Linked DNA regions of Homo sapiens: region 2 is linked to region 1. The links come from fine-mapping of genetic effects on gene expression. A gene starts in region 1. The other region holds a variant in brackets. All regions are shown on one strand. Distances are from middle to middle.

What was found.
Region 2: its variant is fine-mapped to the expression of ARTN in sun-exposed skin (GTEx, PIP above 0.99).

Annotation. Positions count from the first base shown.
Region 1 is chr1:43,929,300-43,941,151 of GRCh38, forward strand. It overlaps ARTN (artemin), which reads left to right and starts at 4,502. Exons shown (of 5, transcript NM_057091.3): 1 at 4,502-4,586; 2 at 4,813-4,961; 3 at 6,291-6,417; 4 at 6,794-6,932; 5 at 7,003-7,941. The coding sequence starts at 6,358. The coding sequence ends at 7,466. ST3GAL3 (ST3 beta-galactoside alpha-2,3-sialyltransferase 3) reads left to right here. Exons shown (of 12, transcript NM_006279.5): 12 at 833-1,860. The coding sequence ends at 922. LINC02918 (long intergenic non-protein coding RNA 2918) reads right to left here and starts at 11,242. Exons shown (of 2, transcript XR_947283.2): 1 at 10,931-11,242; 2 at 8,597-9,494. RefSeq lists enhancers at 298-592, 1,519-1,578, 2,764-3,264, 3,894-3,943, 6,033-6,627 and 1 more and silencers at 4,454-4,543, 5,094-5,143, 7,167-7,216, 7,337-7,526.
Region 2 is chr1:43,856,509-43,864,508 of GRCh38, forward strand. All of the region lies in intron 5 of ST3GAL3 (ST3 beta-galactoside alpha-2,3-sialyltransferase 3), which reads left to right. Among named protein-coding and RNA genes, the nearest start is that of MIR6079, 22 kb to the left of the region's middle. RefSeq lists an enhancer at 1,612-2,230. The variant GCTGTCAGGACTTGTATAGA/G (reference allele first, on the strand shown) is at 4,926.

The DNA of each region.
Region 1 (11,852 bases):
TTTAATTATTATTTTTTTTTTTTGAGACAGAATCTCTCTCTGTTGCCCAGGCTGGAGTGCAGTGGCGCGATCTCGGCTCACTGCAACCTCTGCCTCCCGGGTTCAAGCGATTCTCCTGCCTCAGCCTCCTGAGTAGCTGGGATTATAGGCGCTACCATCACACCCAGCTAATTTTTGTATTTTTAGTAGAAACAGGGTTTCACCATGTTGGTCAGGCTGGTTTGAACTCCTGACCTCGTGATCCACCCGCCTCGGCCTCCCAAAGTGCTGGGATTACAGGCGTGAGCCACCGCGCCTGGCCTATTTTTAATTTTCTAAAAAAGATTTGCCATCTCTCCGCAGGCCCCATAGCTCCTCTGATCTGGGAGGCAGGATTTCATCCGCCGCCCCCAGGCCTGGAGAGTAGATTGCATCAGGCCAGGGAGTGACTCAGCCACCCCTTGCTGTTGGACTTCAGTGACTCACACTGCCTGCCCGCAGGGTGTCTATAACCTAGGTGCTTCATGACAAGAAGTGGCTTGAAGTCTGTGGGAACAAGGTCCTTCCGCCAGCACTGAGGAGGGAGGTTGGGAAGCTTAACGGTTTTCCTGGGACGAGGAAAGGGGTATGAAGGTTCTTTTTTCCCTGTCTTGGGAAGGGAGGAGGATGAGCTGTGGCACTCCTAGAGCAGGGTCATCATTACCGTGTAGACACAACTGATTACCAGTATCTGCCTTCAGGTTTCCACAGTCACGGAGTATTGGAGAGTGGTGACGAAGAAGGCACCGAGCCCTGGAAGGGGCAGTAAAGGTTTGAGCAAAGGCCCAACTGATCACTTCATCTCTCCTTTCAGTCCTGGACGCACAATATCCAGCGAGAGAAAGAGTTTCTGCGGAAGCTGGTGAAAGCTCGCGTCATCACTGATCTAAGCAGTGGCATCTGAGTGGGCCCAGCACATGGCCATAGAGGCCCAGGCACCACCAGGAGCAGCAGCCAGCACCACCTACACAGGAGTCTTCAGACCCAGAGAAGGACGGTGCCAAGGGCCCCAGGGGCAGCAAGGCCTTGGTGGAGCAGCCAGAGCTGTGCCTGCTCAGCAGCCAGTCTCAGAGACCAGCACTCAGCCTCATTCAGCATGGGTCCTTGATGCCAGAGGGCCAGCAGGCTCCTGGCTGTGCCCAGCAGGCCCAGCATGCAGGTGGTGGGACACTGGGCAGCAAGGCTGCTGCCGGAATCACTTCTCCAATCAGTGTTTGGTGTATTATCATTTTGTGAATTTGGGTAGGGGGGAGGGTAGGGATAATTTATTTTTAAATAAGGTTGGAGATGTCAAGTTGGGTTCACTTGCCATGCAGGAAGAGGCCCACTAGAGGGCCCATCAGGCAGTGTTACCTGTTAGCTCCCTGTGGGGCAGGAGTGCCAGGACCAGCCTGTACCTTGCTGTGGGGCTACAGGATGGTGGGCAGGATCTCAAGCCAGCCCCCTCCAGCTCATGACACTGTTTGGCCTTTCTTGGGGAGAAGGCGGGGTATTCCCACTCACCAGCCCTAGCTGTCCCATGGGGAAACCCTGGAGCCATCCCTTCGGAGCCAACAAGACCGCCCCAGGGCTATAGCAGAAAGAACTTTAAAGCTCAGGAGGGTGACGCCCAGCTCCGCCTGCTGGGAAGAGCTCCCCTCCACAGCTGCAGCTGATCCATAGGACTACCGCAGGCCCGGACTCACCAACTTGCCACATGTTCTAGGTTTCAGCAACAAGACTGCCAGGTGGTTGGGTTCTGCCTTTAGCCTGGACCAAAGGGAAGTGAGGCCCAAGGAGCTTACCCAAGCTGTGGCAGCCGTCCCAGGCCACCCCCATGGAAGCAATAAAGCTCTTCCCTGAGCCTGGCCTCTTTTTGCCTTCTCTGACTTTCCTGGAAGAAACAGGAACCTAAAGCCTTAGCAACTATGCCAAACCCTCGGGCCCTCTCTCCAGTCCACAGAGTCCTGGGTCCCTTTCACTTCTTGTGTCAATGCAGGACCTAGGTAGCCATCCAGAGGCCTCTGGAGCATCTCCTGTATCCTCTTTGCTTTGAGACCAGAGGTTTCAGGGCACACTCTTAGAGGAGACAGAGGCACAGGACTGGAGCCCTAGGACATTGCCTTGGGGTGCCACAGCCCCACCTCTGGAAGGACAGATATTCCTGCAAGCACAGGAAAGATATACTGCTGAGCCCCTGCAGCAAGCAGAGGCTCACAGACCTACCCTACTACTGACACTCCCGTCCCTCTGGGAAGGACATGCCCCAGCCCCAATCATTAGCACAGAGGCACACCCTCTCCCTTCAGCCCTGCTCTAGGTATCCTCTGTCATACTTTAGAAAAGATATCACGTCGCCTTCTTAAGAGTCCTAGAGTCTGATCCCTCTCTTCCCCAGCATCCCCAGGCAGGCCTGAGAATGGACAGACCAGACTGTCGCCTGCACTTGAGGCCATGAAGTGAGCTTTCTGTCACACACTGCCACTGTGGCAGGCAGTAAGTGGGGTGGCCGGCTCCTGCTCCTCTCTCCTGCCCACCCCAATCCAAGACTCCAGGCAGCCCTGGGCTGCCCTCCCACTGGTGAGCCCTAAGGCTGGAGTCCCGGCCATCCCAGGGACCAGCAGCCTCCCACATGCTCCTTCCCACTGTGGCCGGCCTTAGGCAGAAGCCTCCTGGGCTAGGGGGGTAAGGGAGGCCCTGACTGAGGGACAGGTCAACCCAGAAACCCCCTCCATTTCTACCGGAAATAAGGCCACTACCATGCACATGTTCCTGCCTGGATGGTGCCCCGTGGAGTTGTACAGGGCATAGGCTGAATGGCCATAAGTGGTGTCCCTGGCTGAAAAAGCCCCAAGGCAGGTGCCCCAACTGAGCAGCCGGTTGTGGGAGGTGACAGAGCAGACTGCTCCCTGCTTGGCCTCCTATCCCAGGGGGCTCCTGGCACGCCTGCAGCAGCCCCACCACCTCCAGCAGCAGTTCTCTGTGGTCTGACTTCTAGTCCTCACCACCGCGGAAAACTACTTTCACACCAGCTATGGTTCTGAGCCCTGGCCATGCACCAGAATCACCTGTGCAATTTGAAAACTGCACATGTCCACCCTGAAAGTCTGATTTGGGTCTGGGTTGAGGCCCGGATGTGGGTAGTTTTTAAAGGTCCCTAGTGGTTCAGAAGCATAGCCAGGGTACAGCTGGTCCACACACATCCCCAGCACTCTCATCCCTGACCACAGCTTCCAATTGCCAGTTGGTTGACAATTCCCAAATTGCCTTTGCCAGCGCAGCTCTCTCTGCTTCCTTCCAGGCTACAAATTCACCGGCTTCCTGAACATTTCCACTTGGATAATCCACAGGCCCTTCCAACTCAACATGTCCAACACCGAACTCATGAGCCCCTGCCTTTCCTCCCAGGAGCCGGGATGTACCCCTCCCCCAGGTCACCCCGCCAAAGGCACACTTTTGCAGGGTCTACCTACCTCCTCACCCTATCCAGTCAGGCACTAATGAATTTTCAAAATTGCGTGTTCCAGATTGGGGCCTGGCAGCCCCACGCTCCCCTCATGCCCTGCATCAGACCTCATCCTCTTTCCACAGCAGCCTCCACCTTTCTCTCCAACCCCATCCTCTTTACTACAGCCAGAGTCATCCACAAAAAATGCCTGTCTGATTACACCATTCTGCTCAAAACCCTCCCATGGTCCCCAGTGTTAGGATCTTTCCATCCATGTTACTCACCCAGCCCTCAACCCACCTGCCAAATTGCCATAATTAGGCATCTGAAATGCTGCCCTCCAGCTACCTACTTCAAGACTCAGCTCAGATGTTCCTCCTCTGTGACCCCTGCCTTCAGCCCTCAGTACCCACTTCTGCCAACACTGCCCCTGCTGTGCCCCAGTGACTCCCGTGTTTGCAAGTGTGTCCGTACTCCAAGCCCTAAGCAGCACAGGAGGTGAGCTGTGGGGAGACTAGAGCAGAGTCAGATCCTGAAAGCTGCGCAGAGGCTAAGCAACCCAACAAGGCAGGTGAACTGGCCGCTGAGAGAAGAATCGGGTGGAGCAGAGAGCAGCTGCTGCAGGGCAGACAGCCGGACCCCCAAATCTGCACGTACCAGCAGTCAGCCGCCCCACGCAGGGACCGGCTTACCCCTCGCTCCCCGCCCTCACTCACTTTCTCCCGCCCTCGGCCCGGCCTCCCAGCTCTCTACTTCGCGAGTCTACAAACTCAACTCCCGGTTTCCGTGCCTCTCCACCGCTCGAGTTCTCTACTCTCCATATCCGAGGGGCCCCTCCCAGCATCTACCCCCCTCCCAACCTCGGGGGACCTAGCCAAGCTAGGGGGGACTGGATCCGACGGGTGGAGCAGCCAGGTGAGCCCCGAAAGGTGGGGCGGGGCAGGGGCGCTCCCAGCCCCACCCCGGGATCTGGTGACGCTGGGGCTGGAATTTGACACCGGACGGCTGCGGCGGCGGGCAGGAGGCTGCTGAGGGATGGAGTTGGGCCCGGCCCCCAGACAAGGCCCGGGGGCTCCGCCAGCAGCAGGTCCCTCGGGCCCCAGCCCTCGCTGCCACCCGGGCCTGGAGCCCCACACCCGAGGTAAGCCAGCCCACTTGCCTGTTTCTGGTCCCAGCCCTGGATGGACGCTCTTGGGCTGGGGGAGAGGACAGGACCACCCCCCTCCTCTCCTTTCTTGCATCCTCCCTCTCTTGGGCCCTCGGCACAGTTCTCCGCCCCTCCCAGCCCCTCAGTCCCTCTTGTCGCTTGTTGGACTGTGCTGGCCTTGCCGGCCCACTGTAATGTGAGGCTCCCGCTGCCGCTACAGGGTGCAGACTGGCTGCCAAGGCCACACTTTTGGCTAAAAGAGGCACTGCCAGGTGTACAGTCCTGGGCATGCGCTGTTTGAGCTTCGGGGGAGAGCCCAGCACTGGTCCCCGGAAAGGTGCCTAGAAGAACAAGGTGCAGGACCCCGTGGTGAGTAGCGGGCTGGTGGATGGGGAGGCAAGGGCCAGAGAACCAAATGGCCCTAGACCACAAGGAGGTAGGAGGCAGGGCCTGAGCTGCCCTCAAGAGACCTGCTCCCGGGCTCCCCCTAGCGCAGAGGGCTCCTAAGGCTGCCCTGCCTGCCTTTCCCTCCATCACGGACAACAGTCACTGGCCTGGCTCGGAGGCCTTGATTCCACTTAGCCAAGAGGCACACACCAGGACCTGGAGGACAACCCCGGGAAGGCCTGGGGGTCTGTTCCACAGGTGTGCAGGCATTCTGTGTGCTAAAGGATGGGGATGAGGGTGGTAGCTGGGACCCAAGAGGAGGCTGGCTAATGAGGACTTACGAAGGCTCTAGGGCCCCAAAAGGGTGTTTGGGAGTGCTAGCAGTGGGAGCTCAGGAAGGCTGGCTGGGATCAGGAACGATGGCTCAAGGGGGAAACTTCTAGGAGCATGACTAGGCTGCCAGATCCATAGGAGGCTGGGAGGGGGACAGACCTAGACCAGCTCCCAGGGTGGCTCAGCTCTCAGAGACCAGGCTGGTATGGAAGCCTAGCTGGCCCTCCTGGGAGTGGCTCAGGCCTGAGTGTAGCTGAGGGGATGGAAAAGCCCACCCTGCTTGGAATCTGCAGGCTTGGCAGACTCTGCCCCCTTGTGGCCACAGGAAGCCATGACCCAGGCCCCATGTTTTCAGAGGGCCCATTAGCTCCCACCATCCCCCGGCTCTGTGGTCATCGAGGGACACCTATAGTCAGAGGAGAGAACTCAGGTGGCTCTGGGTCCAGAACACAGTTCACAGAGGGGCGAGGTGAAGCAGCTCTGGGTGGGCAGCACAGGCTGAGGCTTGGGGCTCACTATCATTAGATAACTCTTAGAGTGACCAGCTAGCACCCTAATTCTTCTCCAGCCCTCAGCTTCCTCTCCGGCAGCCTGGGGTGAAGGCCTCTGTAGGACCAAGTGTGTCCAGCTATAACTCCTTCCAGCCACTTCTGGCATCTCCAGACCTACAACGCAGAGCAGGAAGGTTCTGGGAAAAGAGGACCCCTCTCTCCCCTCCAGCTGTGTGACCTTGTAACCTTAGACAACCTCTGAGCTTCTCTGAGCCTTGTTTGCTCATCTGGAAAAAGGGGATTAAACCATTTACCTCATGGAGTTGTGAAAGAATAGCTGCAAAGCACCTAACACATAGTAAGGTTCCCAGTGCAGCTACTTCTGCTGGGTTGAGTCTAGCTGTGTAGGCCCCTTGTTCCTCACCTGGAGAAACTGGGGTGGCAGGCCGGTCCCCCACAAAAGATAACTCATCTCTTAATTTGCAAGCTGCCTCAACAGGAGGGTGGGGGAACAGCTCAACAATGGCTGATGGGCGCTCCTGGTGTTGATAGAGATGGAACTTGGACTTGGAGGCCTCTCCACGCTGTCCCACTGCCCCTGGCCTAGGCAGCAGGTGAGTGGTTCTCCCAGTGACTCCTACCTGGTACTGAGGAAAGGCGGCTTGACTGGTGAGGGAGAGCAGGGCTTGGCTTGGGCAGCGGTTAGGTGTGGGAGGGAAAATGGTCAGGGAGGGACCAGGTGAATGGGAGGAGGAGCGGGACTTCTCTGAATGGTCGGTGCACTCAGGTGATTCCTCCCCTGGGCTCCCAGAGGCAGCAAACCCATTATACTGGAACCTAGGCCCTTCCTGAGTTTCCCCTCCACACAGCTAGGAGCCCATGCCCGGCCTGATCTCAGCCCGAGGACAGCCCCTCCTTGAGGTCCTTCCTCCCCAAGCCCACCTGGGTGCCCTCTTTCTCCCTGAGGCTCCACTTGGTCTCTCCGCGCAGCCTGCCCTGTGGCCCACCCTGGCCGCTCTGGCTCTGCTGAGCAGCGTCGCAGAGGCCTCCCTGGGCTCCGCGCCCCGCAGCCCTGCCCCCCGCGAAGGCCCCCCGCCTGTCCTGGCGTCCCCCGCCGGCCACCTGCCGGGTAGGTGAGAGGGCGAGGGGGCGGGGCGGGGCTGGCCCGGGACACCGCGCGTGACTGGGTCTCATTCCAGGGGGACGCACGGCCCGCTGGTGCAGTGGAAGAGCCCGGCGGCCGCCGCCGCAGCCTTCTCGGCCCGCGCCCCCGCCGCCTGCACCCCCATCTGCTCTTCCCCGCGGGGGCCGCGCGGCGCGGGCTGGGGGCCCGGGCAGCCGCGCTCGGGCAGCGGGGGCGCGGGGCTGCCGCCTGCGCTCGCAGCTGGTGCCGGTGCGCGCGCTCGGCCTGGGCCACCGCTCCGACGAGCTGGTGCGTTTCCGCTTCTGCAGCGGCTCCTGCCGCCGCGCGCGCTCTCCACACGACCTCAGCCTGGCCAGCCTACTGGGCGCCGGGGCCCTGCGACCGCCCCCGGGCTCCCGGCCCGTCAGCCAGCCCTGCTGCCGACCCACGCGCTACGAAGCGGTCTCCTTCATGGACGTCAACAGCACCTGGAGAACCGTGGACCGCCTCTCCGCCACCGCCTGCGGCTGCCTGGGCTGAGGGCTCGCTCCAGGGCTTTGCAGACTGGACCCTTACCGGTGGCTCTTCCTGCCTGGGACCCTCCCGCAGAGTCCCACTAGCCAGCGGCCTCAGCCAGGGACGAAGGCCTCAAAGCTGAGAGGCCCCTGCCGGTGGGTGATGGATATCATCCCCGAACAGGTGAAGGGACAACTGACTAGCAGCCCCAGAGCCCTCACCCTGCGGATCCCAGCCTAAAAGACACCAGAGACCTCAGCTATGGAGCCCTTCGGACCCACTTCTCACAGACTCTGGCACTGGCCAGGCCTCGAACCTGGGACCCCTCCTCTGATGAACACTACAGTGGCTGAGGCATCAGCCCCCGCCCAGGCCCTGTAGGGACAGCATTTGAAGGACACATATTGCAGTTGCTTGGTTGAAAGTGCCTGTGCTGGAACTGGCCTGTACTCACTCATGGGAGCTGGCCCCTATTTATTATTTCTAAGTTATTTATTTACTTCTGTGGCTTGTCAGATCCTTTCCTGGGCAGCAGGGGGTTGGGAAGAAGAGGCTGGATGGAGATCATGCCTTGCTGATCGCACTCACACACCTCAGGCTGACTCAGCAATCACAGACCTGGCCTGGATCTTCGGCCCCCACCCAGCAGCTCCGGGATGGGAGGCATGGAACACAGGCAGGGGCAGGGCGGGCAGCAAGGGTGCAGTCACTAGTCCTGGCAGGCTGCTCACTTGGGCCTGGGCTTACCTCTGGGGAAAGAGACTACAGAGGCTTCTGTGGAGAAAGCCCTGTCTCTGTGACCTCTGGCATCTTTGTGGCCCCCGCTTAGTGGGTAAAGACACAGAGAAGCACCCATTGCCCCACCCCACTGTCATTGATCAGTGTCTTACCATCCAGGGAATTGTCTTGAGGGTGCCTTGTCAGATATACACATGCCTCTGCTTGCAGACAGGCCAGCATGGTTAACTCACTATCCACATTCCATGAAGCAGCCCAGGGCATGAGGGCATCTGAAAAAAACCGAGGGTTGGTAGAGGGTGCGGTGGGGTGCTGGCTCCGGTGAGCAAAGCACAGAGCTCCATGTGGATAAGGAGGCAGGAAAAGATAAGGGCCCCAGCAGGATCTGCATCTTGGGTGATGAACAAGGATATTCATTAATTCAAACAAATATTTATTAAGCACCTATTATATGTCAGATACTGATTATATGACAGATGCCAAGGATACAGAAGTGAAACAGACATGATCCCTGCCCTTGAGAAGCTTCAACCAGGAGAGACAGACAATAAGTAAGCAATTACAGTAATAATTATTTAAATTCAATTTGGCAAATGGTACGAAAAGGACAGGAAGCTAAGAAGTCCACACCTTCGTGGGGAAGAAAGGAGAAGTTACTGCTGACTCTGGCCTCTCATACCACCCCCAAGTCACCTCCAAAAGGCCAGGGCTATCCCTAAGCTTTTCTGGATATCCTTTCAAACCTTGTTTCCCATGTCCTATGCATTTGTATTGGGGAGGCCTCTATGATTTTTCTTTTTTGGAAATGAGATGGGGGCATGGATTTGGAAAGGATGCTAAGTCTGAGGAACTGTGGGACATCCAGAGGGGTTGTCAGGAGGCAGTGGGATCTGCTGGTCTAGAGCTGCCGAGGGAGGTCTGGGCTGGATTGATGTGACAGCTGTCAGCACAGAGGCAGGAGCTGCAGCCGGGGGTGAATGAGAGTACCATGAGAGATGGAGAGGGTCGAGGGCGAGATCCCTCAGGCATTTGACGCTGCTGAGAGAAATTCCTTCCAATCCGCCTGTGTGCCTTCCTGCTTTGGCACAGATGCCCCCTTCACCCAGGCTAGAGTGAGGAGCTGGCAAGAGCTCTCTGAAGGCTGTGCCCATTCTGGGTCAAGGAGGAGAAACGTGTGTGTGCTCCCACTCTTCTGCATTCACTGCCCCAGTTCTAGATGCTCCAAAAATTTCGATGCCTTTGCTCCCTTCAAACACCCTGTTGGCCCCTCTCTGCCTCCAAACGGATTCGGGATCCTTAGTTCCACCTTCCCTCCTGCAAAGAAAATGGCCCCAGGGCCATACAGTTTACAGAGGGCTGGCTGCAGGCAGAGAAGGACATTCTGTCAATTCCAGGGTTATTGGGGCCAGGCAGCCCCCTGCTAGTGAGACTTTAAAGCCTAGCCTAGTCCCCAAACCCTGCCACTCAGTAGACACGGCTGCTCCAGAGCCAGTAAAGGAGACTGACTGAAGCCATCTCTGACAATGCTCACAGTGAGAGGGCCACAGCCCAAGCCAAAGGTGCTGGCTGTCAACATTCCCCAGGCTGCCAGCTTTTGAGGGAACAGGGCTCACCCCAGCTGGAGGCTGCATTCTGGGCCCCAGACAGCTTGTGCTCAACATCTCAGAGTCCGGAACAAGACAGCAACAGCTCCAAGAACACATTCCCATATGAATTAGCCTCAGTTTGCAACTCAGGACAACCCAAATCAAAAGGAAGACAGTGAAGGAGGGAAGGAGGGGAGGGAAGGAAGGAGGGGAGGGAGGGAGGGAGGGGAGGGAGGGAAGGAGGGGAGGGAGGGAGGGGGAGGGAGGGAGAGAGGGAAGGAAGGAAGGGGAAAGAGAGAGAGAAAGCAAGAAGCAAGCAAGAAAGAAAAGGTTGTTTTCCCCAAAGGAAACAGGCTGCAGAGCTGTACCTCTGTTTACCACATAGTAGCTATAACCTGTCACCAGGTGGCACATTGTAGCTCCTGGGGCCACAGGTGACTCTGGTCAATACTAAAGCCAAAGGCCATTTAGTCCTTTGAAGTCTCAGAAGCATTCGATAGTGTCAGTCCTCCTTGAAAACCTGTCTTCCCGTGACTCTCTTGGTCCAATACTCTCCGGGTTCTCCTTCCACTCCTCCAGAGGCTTGTTCTCAGACGACTTCTGAGTTCCTCTTCCTCTCTCTGCCTCTCATGTTCCTCAGAGCTCTGATACCGACTCTCTCTCCTCTTCCCATTCTACTCTCTCCCTGAGCAGCACTGTCTACTCCCGTGGTTTCAGTTACCACCTCCATGCTAACCATGCTCACATTTTATCTCCAGCCTAGAACATTCACCTGAGCCCCAAGTCTGTAATTCCAATACCTCTATCTGTATATCCTGGGAGACATCAAGCTTAACATATCCATACTGGATGTCTTCCGTTTCCTCCTTCAGATCTGCTGTCCACCCTTCTCCAGCCTGCTCTGCTCCTCACATCAATGAGCTTCCCTGCTGTCCAGCTTCCAGACCCTCCCCAGTGTTCCCTGCTCAGTGAGTGCACCAACCTCATCCAGTGACACAGCCAGAAACTTGGGCAATCTCCTAGGCTCCTTAAGCTCTGTCATGTCCCTTAAGCATTGGTCACCAAATCCTTAGATCCTGCAGATCCATCCCCTTTCCCTATCCCCAGTGCTATTCTGCTGAAGCCTTCATAATTTTTTGGATGGTTTATTCCTCATCCTCCTACCTGGTCTCACTGTCTCCAGTCACAACTCCCTCCAACCATTCTCAGCGCTGCAGCCAGATAAGTTGCCTTCTCTTCATATTAACCGAGCATGAACTGTCGTGCACTGGGCTAGTTTCAGGGATTCAGAGACCAGTGAGAAACATGTTTTGCCATCAAGGAAACTATACTTGGAGATGGAAGTAGGGGTAGGGTAGCAAATAAAAGTAAAAGACATCCTGTTAAATTTGGATTTCAGGCCCTGCGTGGTGACTCATGCCTGTAATCCCAGCACTTTGGGAGGCTGAGGTGGGCGGATCATGAGGTCAAGAGAGTGAGACCACCCTAGCCAACATGGTAAAACCCGGTCTCTACTAAAAATATAAAAATTAGCTGGGCGTGGTGGCACGCACCTGTAGTCCCAGCTACTTGGGAGGCTGAGGCAGGAGAATCGCTTGAACCCGGGAGGCAGAGGTTGCAGTGAGCCAAGATTGTGCCACTGCACTCTAGCCTGGCGACAAAGTGAGACTCTGTCTCAAAAAAAAAAATGGATTTAAGGTAAACAATAAATACACCTTTTTTTTTTTTAGATAGGGTCTTGCTGTGTCCCTCGGGCTGGAGTGCAGTGGTGTGATCTCAGTTCACTGCAACCTCCACCTCCTGGGCTCAAGCGATCCTCTCACCTTAGCCTCCTAACTAGCTAAGACTACAGGTGCATTCTACCACGACTGGCTAATTTTTAAATTTTTTTAATTTTTATTTTTTTGGTAGAGATGGGCTCTTGCTATGTTACCCAGGCTGGTCTCGAACTCCTGAGTTCAAGAGATCCTCCCACATTGGCCTCCCAAAGTGCTCGGATTACAGGTGCGAGTCACCATGCCTGGCCTAAATACTTGTTTTCAGTATGTCCAATGCAATAATTGAGACATACTTATACAAAAAAATT
Region 2 (8,000 bases), 75 kb before region 1:
TTTTCAGTAGGTACCTGCTGTGTTGAAATCCTTGGGTACAGACCTTTCTGGGAAGAGCAGAGTGCTCTATAACTAAAGCTTCTCTGCAGAGTGTCTAAGAGTAGCCTGCATGGGCTAGACAACCTCAATGCCTGTCCATGACCTGGACTCCAGCTTACAGCTGGAAGAATTGCCATTTGTGTCCTCTCCTTTTCTCTGCCCACCAATTTTTTTTCATATATTCCTTAGCGTCAGGTGTTGGGACCTCCTCTGGGAACTAATCCATGTTCTGCTTTTAAATTAATTCCACATCTTGTCTGAGCTTACTGCCTCCTCCATTATTCAAGGAATTTAGCCTGCCAGTTCCCTATAATGGTATACCCCGTCTCTTTCCTCTTTGCTCTATCTTCCAATTCTCATAGGTGGAGCTGCGGTAGACATCCAGAAGTTGTGGGATTTTTTTTTTTTAGATCTCCTTCTCAGATGATTAGGGACCCACACTTGCTTGCAAAGGTGAATCCTGCAGACCTAGCTGGTTATAAATCCATCAGCTGTAGGAGAAGTTCTAGGCCTCAACCTGCTAACTGTTTCTGATGGTGTCAGAGTACATTGTTTCTCCTACCCCAGGACAGGACCTGAGGAGCTACATCTTATCCCTTTCTAACTTCTACTGGAAGGTGAATGACAGGCAAAGCCTTGGTAGAATGTCCCAGACAGGCAAAAGGCAGTTTGGAACCTGTTGTGTGCTATAGAATCAAAAGTGATATGAACTGGTCTGCCACAAGATTTTTGAGATACTGGAAATAAGGTTTTTGAAAACATTTATGGCAATTAGAGTAAGTTTATGTTGCTGAATCTAATAAATAAAAAATAGGCCTGGCACAGTGGCATGCACCTGTGGTCTCAGCTATTTGTTACCAAAAAAAACCCAAAAAAACCAAACTTTTAAAAATGGAGCTTATATTTTATATGTGTATTTCCCTCCTTCCTTCCTTCCTTCCTTCCTTCCTTCCCTCTTCCTTCCTTCCTTCCTTCCCTCCTCCTTCCCTCCCTCCCTCCCTTCCTTCCTTTCCTTCCTTCTTTCTTTCCTTCCTCCCTCCCTTCCTTCCTTCCTTCCTTCCTTCCTTCCTTCCTTCCTTCCTTCCTTCCTCGGAGTCTTGCTCTGTCGCCCAGGCTGGAGTGCAATGGTGTGATTTTGGCTCACTGCAACCTCCACCTCCCAGGTTTAAGAGATTCTCCTGTCTCAGCCTCCCAAGTAGCTAGGATTACAGGTGCCCGCCACTATGTCCAGCTAATTTTTGTATCTTTAGTAGAAGCGGGGTTTCACCATGATGGCCAGGCTGGTCTCGAACTCCTGACCTCAGGTGATCCACCTGCCTCAGCCTCCCAAAGTGCTGGGATTACAGGCGTGAGCCACCACGCCTGGCCTTATTTAACTTTTCTAGTGATTCATTTTTATTCTATTTTATAAAATCATCATTCTGTGACAAAATAGAAATTTAAAAAGCAAAACCAACCGATCCCTCTTCACAGATGGTTTGAGAAGTGTCGGACTACAGTGGAAAGAACAGGTTTTTGAAGTGAATAGGGCTGGGTTGCTCAACCTTTCTGAGCCTCACCTTCCTCATCTGTACCTATCTTCCCCAGAGCTAAGAGAAATGGTGCATGGAGACAAAAACATATCCAGGCATATGTGCTCCGCCAGAGGTGAAGACAGAGGATTGTGGGGACACAGAGAAGGCCCTTCAGCTGGAGGAGTGATGAGAGATTGACTGGGGAGACGTCCTGGTGAAGTCTGATGCCTGAACTATGCTGGGAAAGGTGGGGCTTCGGCAGCAAGACCAGACACACTGGTGGGGGCAGCTTCCTCCTTTGCAGACCAGTTCCAGGCTCCAGCCTAGGAGCAGGAACTGTAGGGATGCTTAGAAGCACAGTCCCTGGTGAGAGCAGGCAGGCTGGCTGCATTCCTGTGGTATTTGAGGATTGATCTTGTCAGATTAGCAGCTTTGCTTTTTTTGGTTCAGGTACAAGATCCCCACGTGGGGAGTTCTTGCTGCTTGTGAAGAGCAAAAGCTGGTGAAAGCACAGAACATGATCCTGGCCCTCCTCCTGAGCTGTGTGAGGCTCCCAGCCAGGAGCAAGCAGCCCTGTGAGTTCCTCAGTGAGAGGGAGGGCCCAGGTCTGAGCTCCACCCACACAAGTCCCAGCGATGAGGCAGCAGCTCAGCAGAGAGCAAGATGCTGGCACCTTCAGGACTGTGTCCTGCTTTCCCTACTCTGTCTGCACCTGGGGAGACAGGTCACTCTCTGACTGGTCTCCCCAAATAAATAGCCAGAGCTAGAGGGGAGAAGGAGGGCTGAAGCCTTGCCTCCCCACTGTGGAGGCAGGACATGAGTCTATGCCTGCCTGCCATGATGAGGGCCCTTGGCTCTGCCTTCTGCCCTGATGCAGGCAAAGAGTCCAGATCCAGGCAAATGAAGTGTCAGAGGGAAGCCACGGCCCTACTCAGGGAGCCTGAGTTCAGTGAATCTCTCAGGAGAGAGGTCTGGGCTGGAAGAAAACAAATTGCACGTAGGTCCATACACAGCCCCCAGAGTGTGGATGAGATTGTCCAGGGTGATGTGGCGAGTATTGGGCCACGTGGCCTCTGTTCTCAGGAGTTCCTGGTCAGGGAAACACACACCTGACAGTTGGCAGCATCACGAAAAAAGGCCTGTTGACAGCTGGCCCTGTGACATCTTTGTGGCCCTTGTGTTGGGATAGACCCATCCTCTCTCCCTCGGTTTCAAGGGCTTAGTATGCGGAAGTTTCCTACACTGGACAACTTCCGAACATAGTTTGAAAACAGAAGATTGGGGCTGGGCACGGTGGCGACCAGCCTGACCGACATGGAGAAACCCCATCTCTACCAAAAATACAAAATTAGCCTGGTGTGGTGGTGCATGCCTGTAATCCCAGCTACTCAGGAGGCTGAGGCAGGAGAATCGCTTGAACCTGGGAGGCGAAGGTTGCAGTGAGCCGAGATCACGCCATTGCACTCCAGCCTGGGCGACAGAGTGAGACTCCATCTCAAAAAAAAAAGAAAAAAAACCAGATGATTGGAAAAACAAAATGACACCTTTGGCTTTGCTGCTCAGCCCCTTCAGATAGTGTGTCTGGGCCACAGGCCAATTGCCAGTTGCGGAACTTGCTCTAAGAAGCAAATGCCCAAATGGAGCAAGTCCTCCAAATGGGGCAAGGCATGTGCTTGAGGCCTGAGCTCAGAAACCAGCTCTGATGAGGGCTGGCTCTGTACCTGCTGTCTCCACTGGCCTTGCTCCCATGTGTCCAAGGTGACTATGATCAGTGAGGTTCTGGCCAGGTTAAGGGCTGTCTCCACCACATTCCCCGTCTCCATCACCCATCCTCATGTGTACCTCAAGACCAGCAAGAGGGATTAAGGGCAGGACTCTGCCAGCTATATGTTCACCCTTAGGCCGCTTCTGACCATCTCAAACCCCCTGCCTCTGCTCCTGTGCCCTTCTCTTCCTGCCCTGTGGCTGTTGCACACACAGGGGTCCCTGATACCCAAGTCCCTTCCCCTGAAGGGCTTCTTTCTGCCCCTCCCTACCCCTGAGGGCGTATGCAAGGAGAATGACCACTGGTTGGATCAGGCCCCATGAGCCCATGTGGGCCTCCTGATGGAAAGAATCCTTCCTCCAAAGCAATGACCTTTTTAAACATGGTCAGCAGCTGCCTCTGGTTTAGCCAGTTCTGCCTGTAGCCTAGTCATTTTGGGGGCAAAATGAAGAAGAGTGCAAGAGGCAGTAGGGTAGAGCACAGCAAACCGTGACCCACACTCAAGGCTGTGGGGAAAGATAGCTCATCCAGGAGGCCTGGGCTCCTGACGCAGCCCTGTCTCCAGTGGGCCTGCTCCAGGAAAGTTGCTAACTCTCATAGAGATGCATTCCTTTGCTACCGCTCAGATTATTGAGAGGAAACACAGGGTTCAGAGACCCCAGCGTGGCCAAGGAAAGCTGTTGGCAAAGGCACAGCTGCATGTAGAGTGAGGTTCAGGAGCAAAGGGTGAGCCTTGCTCTATCCATCTCTGTTCCAGTCCTCATCAGGTACTCCACAGAGGAGCATTTGCTAAAGGAAGAAAGGTAGGACTGGCCATTTCTGCCATGCATCTGGATCCCAAGGGCCATCCTCCATGAGCAGCAGGTCTCTTCCTGTCTAGCCATGAGCCCCTTTCCCTAACCCCTGGAGTGCTAGATGCAGAAAGGGAGGGCAGTGGAGGGATGTAGGCTATGTGGGTTACAGTCACCATGTTCTCCCTAGCCAGAGGTTGATCATTTTTTCCAGCCTGTAACTGGGCCTAATTTCAGACCTTTTCTGAGGGTAGGTTCAGGAAGTAGAAAGCTTTTGAGCTGAGGCAAAAGTGGTCTTACTGTACTTAGACTGTCATCTGTTGGCACTGCGGTGAGGCTGGTCGGAGGACGAGGGGTACATCTTTACCACCTGGCCTCACCGCTGTTTCACCGATCCCTGTGGCTTGACCTTGTGTGCCTGTGCCAGGTTCACAGCATCTCCTTCATGCTTTCTCAGCAAAGATGGAATACAGCTGGGAGCTCCTCTGCCTCCGTCTGGGCAAGTGAAGAGAGCTTAGGTTTTGAAATCAGGCAAACCTGGGTTAGAATCCCAACTTTGCTACTTTGCTAGCTGTATAACCTTGGACAAGCCCTTAGTCATGTTAAACATCAGCCTCCTTATCTGCAAAATGCGAATAACAGCCCCCATCTCATGGGCATTTATGGGGATAACACTAAATAATGTCCATGACATGTGTGTCCTGGTGCCTGGCATGCAGTGAGTGCCTCGTCTGGGGTGGTAAGTGTGGTTCTGTCTTTATGCTCTGACTGCCTCAACTCTCATGGAGACCTTCCAGTAATATGTCTTGGTGTGGA[GCTGTCAGGACTTGTATAGA/G]CTGCATACAAACCCAGGTGACTGGCATTTGTTGATACAGAAATACTTCCACATATTGGGAAATGTGGCTTTTGGCAACTCCAGCTACACAGGATGCAACCGATGACTCATAACTTATGCTGATGCTTCAATTAATAAATTAAATTAATAATTTAAGCTGATGCTTCCTGGTGCCGTAACCCCTACATGCCAATGCCTTACTAACCCATAGTCTTTTATGCCTTTGTGCTGTGCCTGCTAGTCCCCCAACCTGGAGTGCTTCTCCATATTCTTTGCCTTAAGAACTACTGCTTTGGCCGGGCACAGTGGCTCACGCCTGTAATCCCGGCACTTTGGGAGGCCAGGGCAGGCGGATCACCTGAAGTCAGGAGTTCGAGACCAGCCTGGTCAACATGGAGAAACCCCGTCTCTACTAAAAATACAAAATTAGCCGGGCGTGTTGGCACATGCATGTAATCCCAGCTACTTGGGAGGCTGAGGCAGGAGAATCGCTTGAACTCGGGAGGCGGAGGTTGCGGTGAGCCAAGATCACGCCATTGTACTCCTGCCTGGGCAACAAGAGCGAAAATCTGTCTTAAAAAAAAAAAAAAAAAAGAGAGACAACTACTGCTTTTACTTCAGTGAGTAACTTGAACGTTGTCTGGCATCAAGCACAGCAGTCTCTGCTGAGAGAACTGCTTGTGGCAGGCCTCTCCCCTCCAAAGGGGCCTGGACAAGGCAGGCACTCAGCTTGGCCAGCTGTCCACATGCATGTGCTGTCTGGAGTGTCTGTCCTCACATTCTCCACCTTTAAAACTCCAGCTCAGATGTCACCTCCTCTGTGAAGCTTTTCCTGCCCTGGAGCTCCCCCAGCTCTGTGTGCACCTCTATCTGTAACAGTTCTGTGTATACCACATTATAATTCCCTCCTGAGACCTTGTCTAATTTTTACCTCTATCTTACCCTCCATCACCACTTGGTGACTGACTAAACTGGGGACAGCTCCCATTTCTCTTGCCTTTATCCTATCACCACACTCCTTGCAGCTGGCTTGGGCTTGGGGAGGGAAATGGAAGCGGCGGGTCCTACTGACCTAGTTGGGTGTTCTGCCATGTCCAGGCCCACTGTGCAGCTGGGCCCAGCACTCTGGGCTTCCTTCCCAGGACCAACACCAGCAGCATCAACAGTGGGCAGAGCCAGGCGCAGTGGCTCACACTTGTAATCCCAACACTTTGGGAGGCTGAGGCGGGAGGATCACTTGAGCCCAGGAGTTTGAAACCAGCCTGGGAAACATAGCGAGACTCTGTCTCTACCAAAAAAAAAAAAAAAAAAAAATTTAATTAGCATAATGGTGTGCACTTGTAGCCCTAGCTATTCAGGAGGCTGAGGCAGGAGGATCGCTTGAGCCAGGGAGGTTGAGGCTACAATGAGCTGTGATCATGCTACTGCACTCCAGCCTGGGTGACCGTGTGAGACCCAGTTTCAAAAAAACAGTGGACAGAGTCTAAAGTGGCTCTAAGGACATATTAAATTCTGGATTATTCTTCCTTCAAAACATTGAGTTTGACGGTCTCCCTCAGTTGACTCAAATAACTGGATATTGCATATCTGTCTGTTCACTCATGTAATACATTTTTATCAAGTGCTGGGCACTGTGTGGGCACTGGGGAAATGGTTTTAAAAAACGCAGGCATGGTCCCAGCTCACTGTCTGGGGGAAGTAAATTGAAGTTGTAGCTCAGGGTTTCAGAGACATTCAAGTCAAGTTGAGAGTGAGAGATTTGGTTGGGTACTCCCTCACAGCTGCATTTCAGTGCCTGGCTCTGACCTGGCCACAGCACACACCATTGCTAAGTGTGGGGCTGTGGGGAGGCTGAAGCCCTGCACCCACTCCAGGCTGAAGGCAGTCACACAGTAGCTGTGCGGGCTGTGGCAAGAATGAGACTATGACAGCCCCGGAGCCTCAGAAAAACTGGCTTGTGAATGACTTTGCATGGACCAGGGTTATAGACAAACAGAAATGACATCTGAAAAGACTCTTCTGAGCAAGTCCCCTGGCACATTCACACAAGTCAAGTTCAAACAAAAGGCTGTTGATGACATTTCTTCGCACAAGTCACGAAAAGCTTCAGACCAAGGGTGAGCAGTTTCTGCTTCTGCAATTCGGAGATCATAAAGAATAAAGAATGGGTTGGGGAAAGCATAGCTCCATCACTAAGCCAGCTTCCGCCCCCTAAAATGGGGCCTGTCTGCTCAGTATGATGTTCTTAATCCTGGGAGACCCCACAGAGGCCCCAGTCTGGCAGAGAGTGTCCTCAGCGTGTGGGAGAAGCCTCCTCCTCCTCTTCCATCTCTGTGGAGCAGCGACCAGGCCTCCAGAGAAGAGCATGCTTGCATCAGTACCTCATAGATCCCAATCTGGACCTGCCCATGGTGACTGCTGCCCCACTTCCAAGCTCCAGAGACCCCAAGTATTCTGCCCCTCCCTGAACCCCTAAGCATTCACTGTCTACCAAGCCTTGTGCAGAGGTCTAGGGGAGAGTGACAGATAAGAAACTTGAGTGGGGGCCGGGCGTGGTGGCTCATGCCTGTAATCCCAGCACTTTGGGAGCTTGAGGCAGGCAGATCACCTGAGGTCAGGAGTTCAAGACCAGCCTGGCCAACATGGCAAAACCCCGTCTCTACTAAAAATACAGAAATCAGCCGGGCATGGTGGCGCATGCCTGTAATCCCAGCTACTTGAGAGGCTGAGGCAGAGAATCATTTTGACCTGGGAGACGGAGGTTGCAGTGAGCTGAGCTGGCGCCATTGCACTCCAGCCTGGGCAACAAGAGCAAAACTCTGTCTCAGGGAAAAAAAACAAAGAAAGAAACTGAGTGGGCAGTGTGGTTACTGTAGCAACAGAGCAAGCACAAGGAGCTGTGTGTGCTCTGATAAGGGCCCCTAACCAAACTGCAGGCAGGAGAGGCTTCCTAGAGATGGGGACACCTGTGCTGCCTATTGGAGGACAGTTAGAAACTGGCCAGGTAGAGAATCTAGGGAAGGGCAGGAATCACATGGAGGGAAGGAGACACACTT